Linked DNA regions of Homo sapiens. The protein of the gene in region 1 purifies or fractionates together with the protein of each later gene. This does not show direct contact. Each region holds a gene or a part of one and is shown in the gene's direction. Other genes may lie near its edges. The genes, in order: GOLGA3, NCAPD2 and FNBP1.

Region 1 (3,651 bases):
CCAGAGAGGATCCGCCCTCGAATGGAGACATCACCAGTGAAGGGGCATTTCTTGTCAATGTAGGTGCCCTCAGTAGCCTCTTTGGGTGTCTTGAAGCCCAGACCAATGTTCTTGTAGTACCGCAGGAGCTTCTCCTTGCCAGTTTCTCCCAGCAGGACCCTCTTCTTGTTTTGAAAGATGGTCGGCTGCTTTTGGTAGGCACGCTCAGTCTGAATGTCCGCCATCTTCCCGGCCACTGAAAAAAGGTGCTCTTCCAGTTTCTAACTCCCTGGACTCCCTCATTGGAACTGAAGCTCACAGATGTTTCAGCTGGACTAGTTTAGACTTTGCTGTATTTTAAAAGGCAGTGTTGATGCTCCAGGATTCAAATACTTAATCATTTTGTTTTGGAACCATTAGCTTTGTAGCAGAGGAATGTACTCAGCAGAATCAGCAGAACTGAAGATTTAATTCGGCAAATTAAACCTGTGTTGGCACTTTAGGAGTTGGGAGTGTTCAAGGTGGTGGGAGGCAGACGGGGAATGAGTCTCTGTCTTCAAGGATCTCGCCATGTAATGGGCACACACGCAATGGCAGACATGACGTGCTGTGGTGGAGGCCACGTGAGGTACAGTGATGGCAGAGGGGGTAGACGAGACACTTTACCTGCGGGGCCAGGAGGGTCTGCACGCGCAGGCACACACCGTCGGTTCCTTTACCTGAGGGGCCAGGAGGGTCTGCACGCGTAGGCACACACGGTCGGTTCCATATAATCACCCCACCCCCGCAAGGCAGAAGCAAAGACATCACAAAGCAAAACGCAAGTTTTCTTTTGCTAGGAAATTTTCAAGAGGACCAGATGTACAGGGTACCAGTATTCAGTGGCGCAGTCGAGTCCACATTCCACCGCGTGTAGTCCTCCGTGCCAGTTTGTAATTCATCTGTCAAAGGGGCAAGCCTGTGATAAGCAGCCATCATTTTGCTGATGCTCCTCCCCTTGTTTTGTGGGTGTCTTCTCCATTCCCAGGTGGGCGTGGCCGGCTGACCCCCAGTTCTCTTGGAGTGTGTCTGGGATTGTAGCTGAGGGGCAGGCTTGGTGGAGATCGCAGTGTTTTTCCTGGAAAGTGATTTTCAGAGGGTTCTGTGCTGTGTGTAAGGACAGGTGTGTAGTTCAGATCCCTGCCTAGGCTCTAAGGCCCATTTATCACCCACCCACCCGGAAAATCCAGGGATGAGAGATGTTACTAGATGATCATAGACGCAAACATGAGATTGAGAATTCGTTGCACACAGGATTAGCTTTTGACCAGCCTTGGTAACTTCCTTCACTTCTGTGCTTCAGACATTGCTTTAATCTTTAAATATTTTTATGTGCCAGGCACCCTGAGTCAAGACATCTAGGATCCTTTGTTTACAGTAGTTTCTTGATTAGCTATGCGAGATTTATAGTTACTAATGTTAGGACACATTTCTATTCACAGTGCTTTCTGGTTACAAACCCTTAATGCTAGTTTTACACTAATAGCATACGTAACCTTTTAATATTCTGAACAACACTGTTATGAACTCATAACTGTCTCTGGCCTGTAGGATGCAAGGTGGCAGAGAGGAATGGTGGATTATTATAGTTATGAGCAGATACTCACAGGTCTGCACGCCCTTCAGTGAGTCATTGACTGTGTCAGTGGACTGGGTTACACCCACCACCCATAGGTTTCCTCTTTTACGGGTGACCAGTCTAGATGGCAGGTAGAGTAAAAACCCCTAGAAAGACAGGCACGTCCTGCTGCGGGGTCAGTGACACACATGCTCTCGAGGACCAGCCACGTGGGCTTCTCTTTTTTTTGTTGTTTTTTGTTTTTTGAGATGGAGTTTTGTGCTTGTCTCCCAGGCTGGAGTGCAGTGGCACAATTTTGGCTCACGCAACCTCTGTCTCCCAGGTTCAAGCGATGTTCCTGCCTTAGCCTCCTGAGTAGCTGGGATTACAGGCACGCGCTGCCATGCCTGGCTAATTTTTGTATTTTTAGTAGAGACGAGGTTTCACCTTGTTGGCCAGGCTGGTCTTGAAATTCTGACCTCAAGTGATCCACCCACCTTGACCCCCCAAAGTTATGGGATTACAGGCATGAGCCATCACACGCAGCCCTTTTTTTTTTTTAGACGGAGTTTCCACTCTTGTTGCCCAGGCTGGAGTGCAATGGCGTGGTCTTGGTTCAGTGCAACCTCCGCCTCCCAGGTTCAAGTGATTCTCCTGCCTCAGGCTCCCAAGTAGCTGGGATTACAGGCGCCTGCCACCACGCCTGGCTAGTTTTTTGTATTTTTAGTAGAGATGGGGTTTCACCATGTTGGCCAGGCTGGTCTCAAACTCCTGACCGCAGGTGATCCGCCCGCCTTGGCCTCCCAAAGTGCTGGGATTACAAGCATGAGCCACCGCACCCGGCCCCATGTGGGCTTCTTGTCTATACCTTCTGTGTGGGATTTGTAAGCTAGAGGCGAAGGTTGTGTAATGTTTCTCATGAAAAATGTTAAACACAGAACATAATGTAGGTTAATATGAAACTGATTTTAAAGGAATAAATGCCAACATTTCTGCAGAATGAATGGAAGCTCATGCTAGTGTCTTACCTGTTGATAAGGAAATGAGTTAATAATATCACCAGCACATTTCAGGGTGGATAATCACTTGCCAAATGTTGGGCAAAGTTTTGCTCCCCTGAATGTAGCCCGGCAGGGCAGGCTGAGAGAGCTAACCCAGCTAGAGGTAAAGACGGGAACGGGCCCTGCCGTGAGATGCCCTTTCTGTGCCCCCACTCCAAGGCAGCTGCCTTTCTGGTGTCCTTGTACACCCTGTATAGAGTTACCACATCCCATGGCACCTGCTTTTTAAAGTTTTGTTTCTCTGGATCTGAGTTGTCCAACCTGAAGGGGTGGGGCTGCCGGCAGGAGCCGTGGCCTTGGGCAGAGTCACTCACTAGCTGAGAGGGGGGCCTGTGAGTCTGGTATTGTAATTTTTAAATTGTTTTTGAGATGGGGTCTCCCTCTGTCACCCAGGCTGCAGTGCAGTGGTGCGATCTCAGCTCACTGCAACCTCCGCCTCCCGGTTTCAAGTGACTCTCCTGCCTCAGCCTCCCGAGTAGCTGGGATTACAGGTGTTCACCACCACACCCGGCTATTTTTTGTATTTTTAGTAGAGGTGGGGGTTTCACCATGTTGGCCAGGCTGGTCTTGAACTCCTGACCTCAGGTGATCTGCCTGCCTCGGCCTCCCAAAGTGCTGGGATTACAGGGGTGAGCCACCGCGCCTGGCCCAAATTAATTTTAAATAAAATTTAAAGCTCAGTTGCCCTGTGTGACACCTACTCCACAGATTCAGAGCTGCGCTGTCCCAGCAGAATGTTCTTTAGTTGGCACCGATACAGACATTAAGCTCCTTCAGGAAAGGGCCCAGTGTGGCTGGGTCAGCATCTTAGCCTCAAAACCTAGGATGTTGTGGGTGCTCCAGGATTATTTGCTGAATGAAAAAGTTTGTATTTGTTTCTTGTACGTATGCAAATTGGGAACCAAATGCTAATTTTGTAATTGATACTTGAAATCTGACAAGTTTCATAATACATTTTGTCTCTCTCTCCTGTCAGGTATCATGATATTAGCTGGTTTGACATCAAGTCATTTG
Region 2 (3,651 bases), about 130 Mb from region 1:
ATTCTAGAATCTTGCTCCTCAAAATGTGGTCCTCAGATCAGCAGTGTTAATATCAGGATCTCATGATCTGGGAGCTTATTAGAAATGCAGGATGTCAAGGCCCAGGATGTCAAAGCTGCTGAATCAGGAAATCTGTATTTTAAGAAGATTCCCCCAGGCAATTTGGATGCAATTATAAGCTTGAGAAGCACTGATCTCTAGAGCCTCGTAGATCATGGCAAAAACTTGAACTTCAGTGTGAATGAACTTGAAAGCCATTGGGTTTTGAGCATGGGAGTGACATGGTCTGACATTTTAAAAGATTCACTGGCGACTGTGTTGAGCAGAGACTATAAGAGGCAAGGAGAGAAGCAGGGATACTAGTTAAGTGGCTAATACAGTAATACCAAGTAGATTGGACTGGAGGGATAGCAGGGGAAGTGGTGATAAAACGACTCAGGATATATTTTCAAAGTAGAGCTTTTACAGGAATGCTGATGGATTGGATTGGATTATAGGGTTAGTAAAGGAATCTGAGATGAGAATGATTACAAGGCTTTTTTTTTTTTTTTTTGACAGTCTTGCTCTGTTGGCTCTGTCACCCAGGTTGGCGTGCAGTGGCGTGATCTTGGCTCGCTGCAACCTCTGCCTCCCAGGTTCAAGCAATTCTCATGCCTCAGCCACCTGAGTATCTAGGATTACAGGTGTGCACCACCACGCCTGGCTAATTTTTTTTTTTTTTTTTTTTTTTTTTTTTTTTAGGCAGAGTCTCGCTCTCTCGCCCAGGCTGGAGTGCAGTGGCACCATCTCGGTTCACTGCAAGCTCCGCCTCCCAGGGTCACGACACCTGGCTAATTTTTGTATTTTTAGTAGAGATGCGGTTTTGCCGTGTTGTCCAGTCTGGTCTTGAACTTCTGGCCTCAAGTGATCTGCCTGCCTCGGCCTCCCAAAATGTTGGGATTACAGGCGTGGGCCACCACACCCGGCCTTACAAGGCTTTTTGACTTGAGCAACTAGAAGAATGAAGTTGCCATTTACTGAGATGGGGTAGCATATGGGAGGGAGAGGTTTAGATTGTTGGTTATGTGAGTGCAGAGTTCAAGGGAGAGGTTGTCAGCTAAAGATACACATTTAGGATTTAATACTCAGCGTGTAGACAGCACTTAAAGCCATGAGATTGCAGTGAGTGTAGATGGAGAAGAGCAGCAGTTTGAAGACCAAGACCTGAGACAGTCCAGCATTTAGAGGCTAGGAGGATGAAGAAGAACCAGTAGAAGAAATTAAGAAGCAGTCATTGGGGCAGAAAGCGAATGAAGGAGCTAAATGGACGCTAAATAAAGAGAGTGTTTCAAAAACAAAAGAGAGGTCAACTGCAGATTAACTACTGGATTTATTGATGTCATAGTCACTGGTAACCTTGACAAAGCTGTTTCAGGAGATGGTGGGGGCAAAAGCCTGCTAGGAATAGGTTTTTAAGAAAATGGAATGACAGAGATTAGAGATGATGAATTTACATAATGTATTTCTTTTAAGATGGGCAGCATTATGTGTGTCTATATTGAGTAGGAATGATCAGAGAGGGAAAAGCTGATGCTGCAGAAGGAAGAGGGAACAGTTGTTGGAGCAGTGCCTTTAGTAGGTAAGAGAGTACGTGATCTGGTACACGGGGAGGAGATGGCTTTATCAGAACATGGACAGTTTATCCACAGTAGCAAAAAAAAAAGGCAGAGTGTATGTATGGGCATAGATGCAACTAGTGCAGGTAAATATAGAGCTTGGGGCAGTTGAAAGTTCTCTTCTGTCTGCTTCTGTTTCCTCAATAGGAAGGGAAAGCCTTTAACTGAGAGTGAGTTTGGGAAGAAGGTCATGGTGTTATGAGCAGAGGATAGGTGTGAAATAATTGCCTAGAAGAAAACGAATAGACTTGGGAGTACGAATGCCCACTTCAGGTTAGTAGTCATGAGTTTAACGTAAGACTAGTCAGCTTGTTTCTGTGTTTTTCTCAGGCCATTTTTATTTGTGTGGTCACATGAATGGAGTAACCAGAAAGTTGGTTTAACCTAGATTTGCCAGGGGAGTATGTGTTGTTGTTGTTGTTAATTAGTGGAATAAGTTACAAGTATCACAGTATCTAACAATAGGGGAATAGTAAATTAAGATAGATATAAGGCCGAGTGTGGTGGCACTGCCTGTAGTCCCAGCTACTCAGAAGGCTGGGGCAGGAGGATCGCTTGAACCCAGAAGTTTGAGGCTGCAGTAAGCTATGATCCTGCACTGCACTTCGGCCTGCGCAACACAACAAACCCTGTCTCAAAAAAAATTGTTTACAAAGGTGTTTTTGTTGTTGTTGTTGTTGTTGCTTTTTTTTTGAGACGGAGTCTCACTCTGTCACCCAGGCTGGAATACAGTGGCACTATCTCGGCTCACTGCAACCTCCTCAGTTCAAGCGATTCTCCTGCCTCAGCCTCCTGAGCAGCTGGGATTACAGGCGCATGCCACCACACCTGGCTTTTTTTTTTTTTTTTTTTTTGTATTTTTATTAGAGACGGGGTTTCACCATGTTGGTCAGGCTGGTCTCGAACTCCTGACCTGATGATCCACCTGCCTCAGCCTACAAAGTGTTGGGATTACAGGCGTGAGCCACCACGTCTGGCCTACAAAGGTTTCTAATACACTTACTGTAATGCTAAATTTTAAAAAGCATGACAGAGAAGTGAATATGTGATACAAGCTCAACAATGGAAATACGATGTATAGAAAATGGACTGAGAAAAATATGCTGTTATAACTGAATGCCTGAGACTGGATATTTATAATGAAAGAAATTTATTGGCTCACATTTTTTTCTGGAGACTGGGAAGTCCCAAATCAATGCACCAGTAACTGGCAAGGGCCTTCTTGCTGCATTGTCACAGGGCAGAAGGCAGAAGGGCACAAGTGAACCCACTCCCCAGAGCCCTTTTTATAATAGTATGAATATATCGGTGAGGGGTTGGGCACGGTGGCTCACACCTGTAATCCCAGCACTTTGGGAGGCCGAGGCGGGCAGATCACAAGGTCAGGAGTTCGAGACCAGCCTGGCCAATATGGTGAAACCCCGTCTCTACTAAAAATACAAAAAATTAGCCGGGTGTGGTGACGCGTGCCTGTAATCCCAGCTACTCAGGAGGCTGAGGCGGGAGAATCACTTGAACCTGGGAGCCGGAGGTTGTAGTGAGCCGAGATCGTGCCACTGCACTTCAGCCTGGGTGACAGAGCGAGACTCCATCTATTTTTTTTTTTTTTTTAAAAAAGATGGTGAAACCCCGTCTCTACTAAAAAATAGAAAAATTAGCTAGGTGTGGTGGCAGGCACCTGTAATCCCAGCTACTCGGGAGGCTGAGGCACTGAATTGCTTGAACCCAGGAGGCAGAGGTTGCAGTGAGCTAACATCATGCCACTGCACTCCAGCCTGGGCGACAGAGCGAGACTCCGTCTCAAAAATATGTATATATATTTGTGAGGGTGGAGCCCTCATAACCTAAACACCTCCCATTAGACTCCACCTTCCAACACTGTCATGTTGGGGATTATATTTCCAACACATGAATTATGAGGGGCACATTCAAACCATACAGCGTGCTAAGTGTTGTTCTGACTGGTTTGCATGGACTATCTCATTCAGTTTTGACA
Region 3 (3,402 bases), on another chromosome or scaffold:
CAGCTGACCCTTCAACCACAAGGATCTGTTTAAATGAGCAGTAGGAAGTTTCCAGCTTTACCCAGTAAACAAGTGAATGGGAAACCTAAGGTATTAAAATCTGACCTTTCTATCCGATGACAAACTCATTTCCAGTCTGTGAACTCCTGGACAAAGCAAACTAACCACTGAAAAACTCGAAAATAGGGCAAGACGACATTAACCTTGTGAAAGTCTGCTTTGAAAAAAGGCATTCTGTCAAGCTGTGTATTTTTTTCTTGATTATTCAAATTTATTTCGTTATTCAAATTTAATTCAGAAAATAGCTCAGTTGGTTTCAGGGGGAATGGGGTGGGAGGGGTTTGGGCACATAAATTTATGATGATAATTTTAAATGTACGATCATTAAGTTGTATGCCTCAGTACTATAACAGGTGAATCTCTGTAATATTGACTAAACAGTTAAAAGATATTTTGTAAATTTCAGGTCCATCGCATCAATGCATGAAATATTAGAAAACCAAATTCCAAAGAATCAGGAATTTCCATTTCCACCCAAAGTATACTTTATTATCTTCTAGCAGTTGTCTGTTAATATAAAAGCAGCAAAATCTCAGCTACTTATATAATTTTCTCCTTTTATTTGAAAGTTACACTTAGAGATTAATAATATGTACAGAGAAGCTTTTCCTGCCTACTCTGTTTATAACTCTGTCCAACTTGCCCACAAACACTGCCCTCCTTCAACCCATCTGATGTGGGCAAAGCCACTGTTTTCTTAGGCCCATAACTCAGTGCAGCTGTTTTATTTTTATAATGCCGGTCAACCTTTTTGTGTGTGTGTGTGTGTGTGTGTGTGTGTGTGTGTGTGTGTGTGTGTGTGTCTACGATGTGCTTATTTAATAATTGCCAAAATATTTAGACTAGAGTAACTTCCGGTGGGTCAATTGGATTGTGACTTTCTTTTGTGGTTTTTTGGTTCTTCGATTGCTCTCTGTTAAATATTTTCATAATTCCCCCCACAGAATACGTGTGTATATACTGCAACTTAAAAACTAAAAGCAGTACTCGAATGAGTTGTTTTAATGTTGTACTTTTATCTGTTTGTTTTATGGGTTCTCCTGCTGCCTAATGACCTTTCTGTTTTTATAACTGCCGGAAAGCCGCGAAGCCTCTCGCATGGGGAGCTAGGTCCCCGCTGCGGCTCCGCACTTGAGTTTATTATAAACTCTGGGGTTCTGAGTAAGTTTTGTTTGAATACAGCAACATGATTGTCTCTTTCTATTCTTATCCTAAAAGACTCTGTCTGGCATCTTTTAGTTGTACCCTCGTATCTGCTTCTCTAATAAATGTTATATTTTTTCTCAGTATTGTGTATTTTAAGTGACTTTTCATGTTTCCAAGAAAATTATTCTGTGTAATATGAATATTTAACTCTTTCATCTCCAGTAATAGGGGATTTTCTAGCCCAATGCTTTTTTAAAAATTCTGCCTCCCACCCCTACCTCCTCCTTTAAATGATGGCACCTCCCCTGTTTCTGATCTTGCGTGCACTCAGGGCCTGAGAAGTCTGTGTTTCTTTTGTTTCTTTTCTCTCTCCTTGAGATGAAGAGCTTTTCACGGTTTATTGCGGAATGAATACAGAACAACAGGTTTTCCTTTTCACCAAAGATTTTACATTGTACTGCTGAAGAGCCAAGAGTTTCCTTCTGAGAGAATTGGACCTTCATGTTCCTTGTACCATTCTAGGAAATTGATGCATTTCTTTTCTTTTCTTTTTTTTCTGGAGTTGAATTCTCACTCTGTTGCCCAAGCTGAAGTGCAGTGGTGTGATCCTGGCTCGCTGCAGCCTCGACCTCCCTGGGCTCAAGCCATCCTTCCAACTCATCTTCCCGAATAGCCGGGACTACAGGCGCATGCCAACATGCTGGTTAATTTTTTTTTAATTTTTTGTAGAGATGAGGTCTGGCTATGTTGTGGCCCAGGCTGGTCTTGAACTCCTGAGCTCATGCATCCTCCCTCTTCAGCCTCTCAAAGTGCTGGGATTACAGGTATGAGCCACTGCACCCAACCTCCGTTTCCTTTTTTTTTTTTTTAAGACGGAGTCTTGCTCTGTTGTCCAGGCTGGAGTGCAGTGGCCCGATCTCAGCTCACTGCAACCTCCGCCTCCTGGGTTGAAGCGATTCTTCTGCCTCAGCCTCCCAAGTAGCTGGGATTACAGGCACCTGCCACCACGCCAGGCTAATTGTTGTATTTTTAATAGAGATGGGTTTTCACCATGTTAGCCAGGCTGGTCTTGAACTCCTGACCTCGTGATCTGCCTGCCTCAGGCTCCCAAAGTGCTGGGATTACAGGCATGAGCCACGGCGCCCAGCCCCGGCCTCCGTTTCTTACTTTCTCTCAAAACTAAACTTATGAGAAAGACGAGTTGGGGCGGATGGCCTCATCAGTCTCCTGTTTGGGCTTCTCTTAACTCTGAAGGAAAGACCAGCTAAAGGCTAGAGAGAAAACCGTGAAAGTTCCTCATCTCAGACCCGCCCTGTGGTAACCGATTGCTCTAAGACGCCCCCTCCCATCCCTCCCCTCCCACTACCCTCCCCTCCCAGGGCGGTGCAGTTTGTAGCCAAGAGCAAAATGCCCGCCTGGAACCCGCGCCTTCCTCTCTAACAGAGAGTTTCTCTTTCTGTTTCTCTTTGTGTTGTAGATTCCTAGAGGGGAGTGCCTGCGAGCCTCGGGTGAGCCTTCCTGGAGGAGCCTCCGTCTGCTTGTTCCCACAGGCCTCCAGCGCCCTGCCCTGTGGACAGCCCACCCCTCCGCAGCCCCATCCCTGCGGGGCGGTCTCTCTCTCTCTCCAGCATGCTCCCTGCGGCCCTGCCCTCCCGCCCAGCCCGGGCCACCTCGTGGGGGACAAGTCTCGCCAGCGCCCACCCCCATGGCTCGGGTCAGTCCTCATCGCTCCCCCTCCCCACCCCGCGCAGGCCACTGAGACGGTGGGACACACGCCCCTACCTGCTCCTTCCTGGGCCCTCAGTCCACCCGGGCTCGTCCTGGCAGCCCTTCCGCGCTTCACACAGTGCCTTTTGTGAAAGTGTCATCACGGGTCCCCTGAGGAGACAAGGCAGGTCCAGCGCACATCAGGCGGACTGAGCACTCGATGTCATCCGTGTCGATGTCATCCGTGTGTCCCAGACTGTCTGCTGTAGAAAACACTTCCTCCTCTCCTGAGTCTGTGAAGTCCTCAGTGGTCCTTTTTGGATTCTAGGCTTGCACCTCATACTAAACATTGACCCTTTCACTATGCCCTCAACCTGGGAGCATCTGGCAGGCAGGGGGGCAGGTACACACACACCCACAGGCACACCCACCAGTACACACGCGTGCGCATACACACATTTTGGTTTGACGCCCTGTTTTCAGTGGCCT

The links.
Region 2: the proteins of GOLGA3 (region 1) and NCAPD2 fractionate together in Homo sapiens (co-fractionation; one large-scale study listed by BioGRID). This does not show direct contact.
Region 3: the proteins of GOLGA3 (region 1) and FNBP1 fractionate together in Homo sapiens (co-fractionation; one large-scale study listed by BioGRID). This does not show direct contact.

Annotation. Positions count from the first base shown.
Region 1 is NC_000012.12:132,822,274-132,825,924, reverse strand, and holds part of GOLGA3 (golgin subfamily A member 3), read left to right. Parts: exon of another isoform or gene 1-244; intron 245-818; exon of another isoform or gene 819-1,006; intron 1,007-3,613; 5' UTR 3,614-3,651. UniProt on the Homo sapiens protein: Golgi auto-antigen; probably involved in maintaining Golgi structure.
Region 2 is NC_000012.12:6,500,521-6,504,171, forward strand, and holds part of NCAPD2 (condensin complex subunit 1), read left to right. Parts: intron 1-3,651. UniProt on the Homo sapiens protein: Regulatory subunit of the condensin complex, a complex required for conversion of interphase chromatin into mitotic-like condense chromosomes.
Region 3 is NC_000009.12:129,889,828-129,893,229, reverse strand, and holds part of FNBP1 (formin-binding protein 1), read left to right. Parts: intron 1-2,683; coding exon 2,684-2,691; 3' UTR 2,692-3,402. UniProt on the Homo sapiens protein: May act as a link between RND2 signaling and regulation of the actin cytoskeleton. Required to coordinate membrane tubulation with reorganization of the actin cytoskeleton during the late stage of clathrin-mediated endocytosis.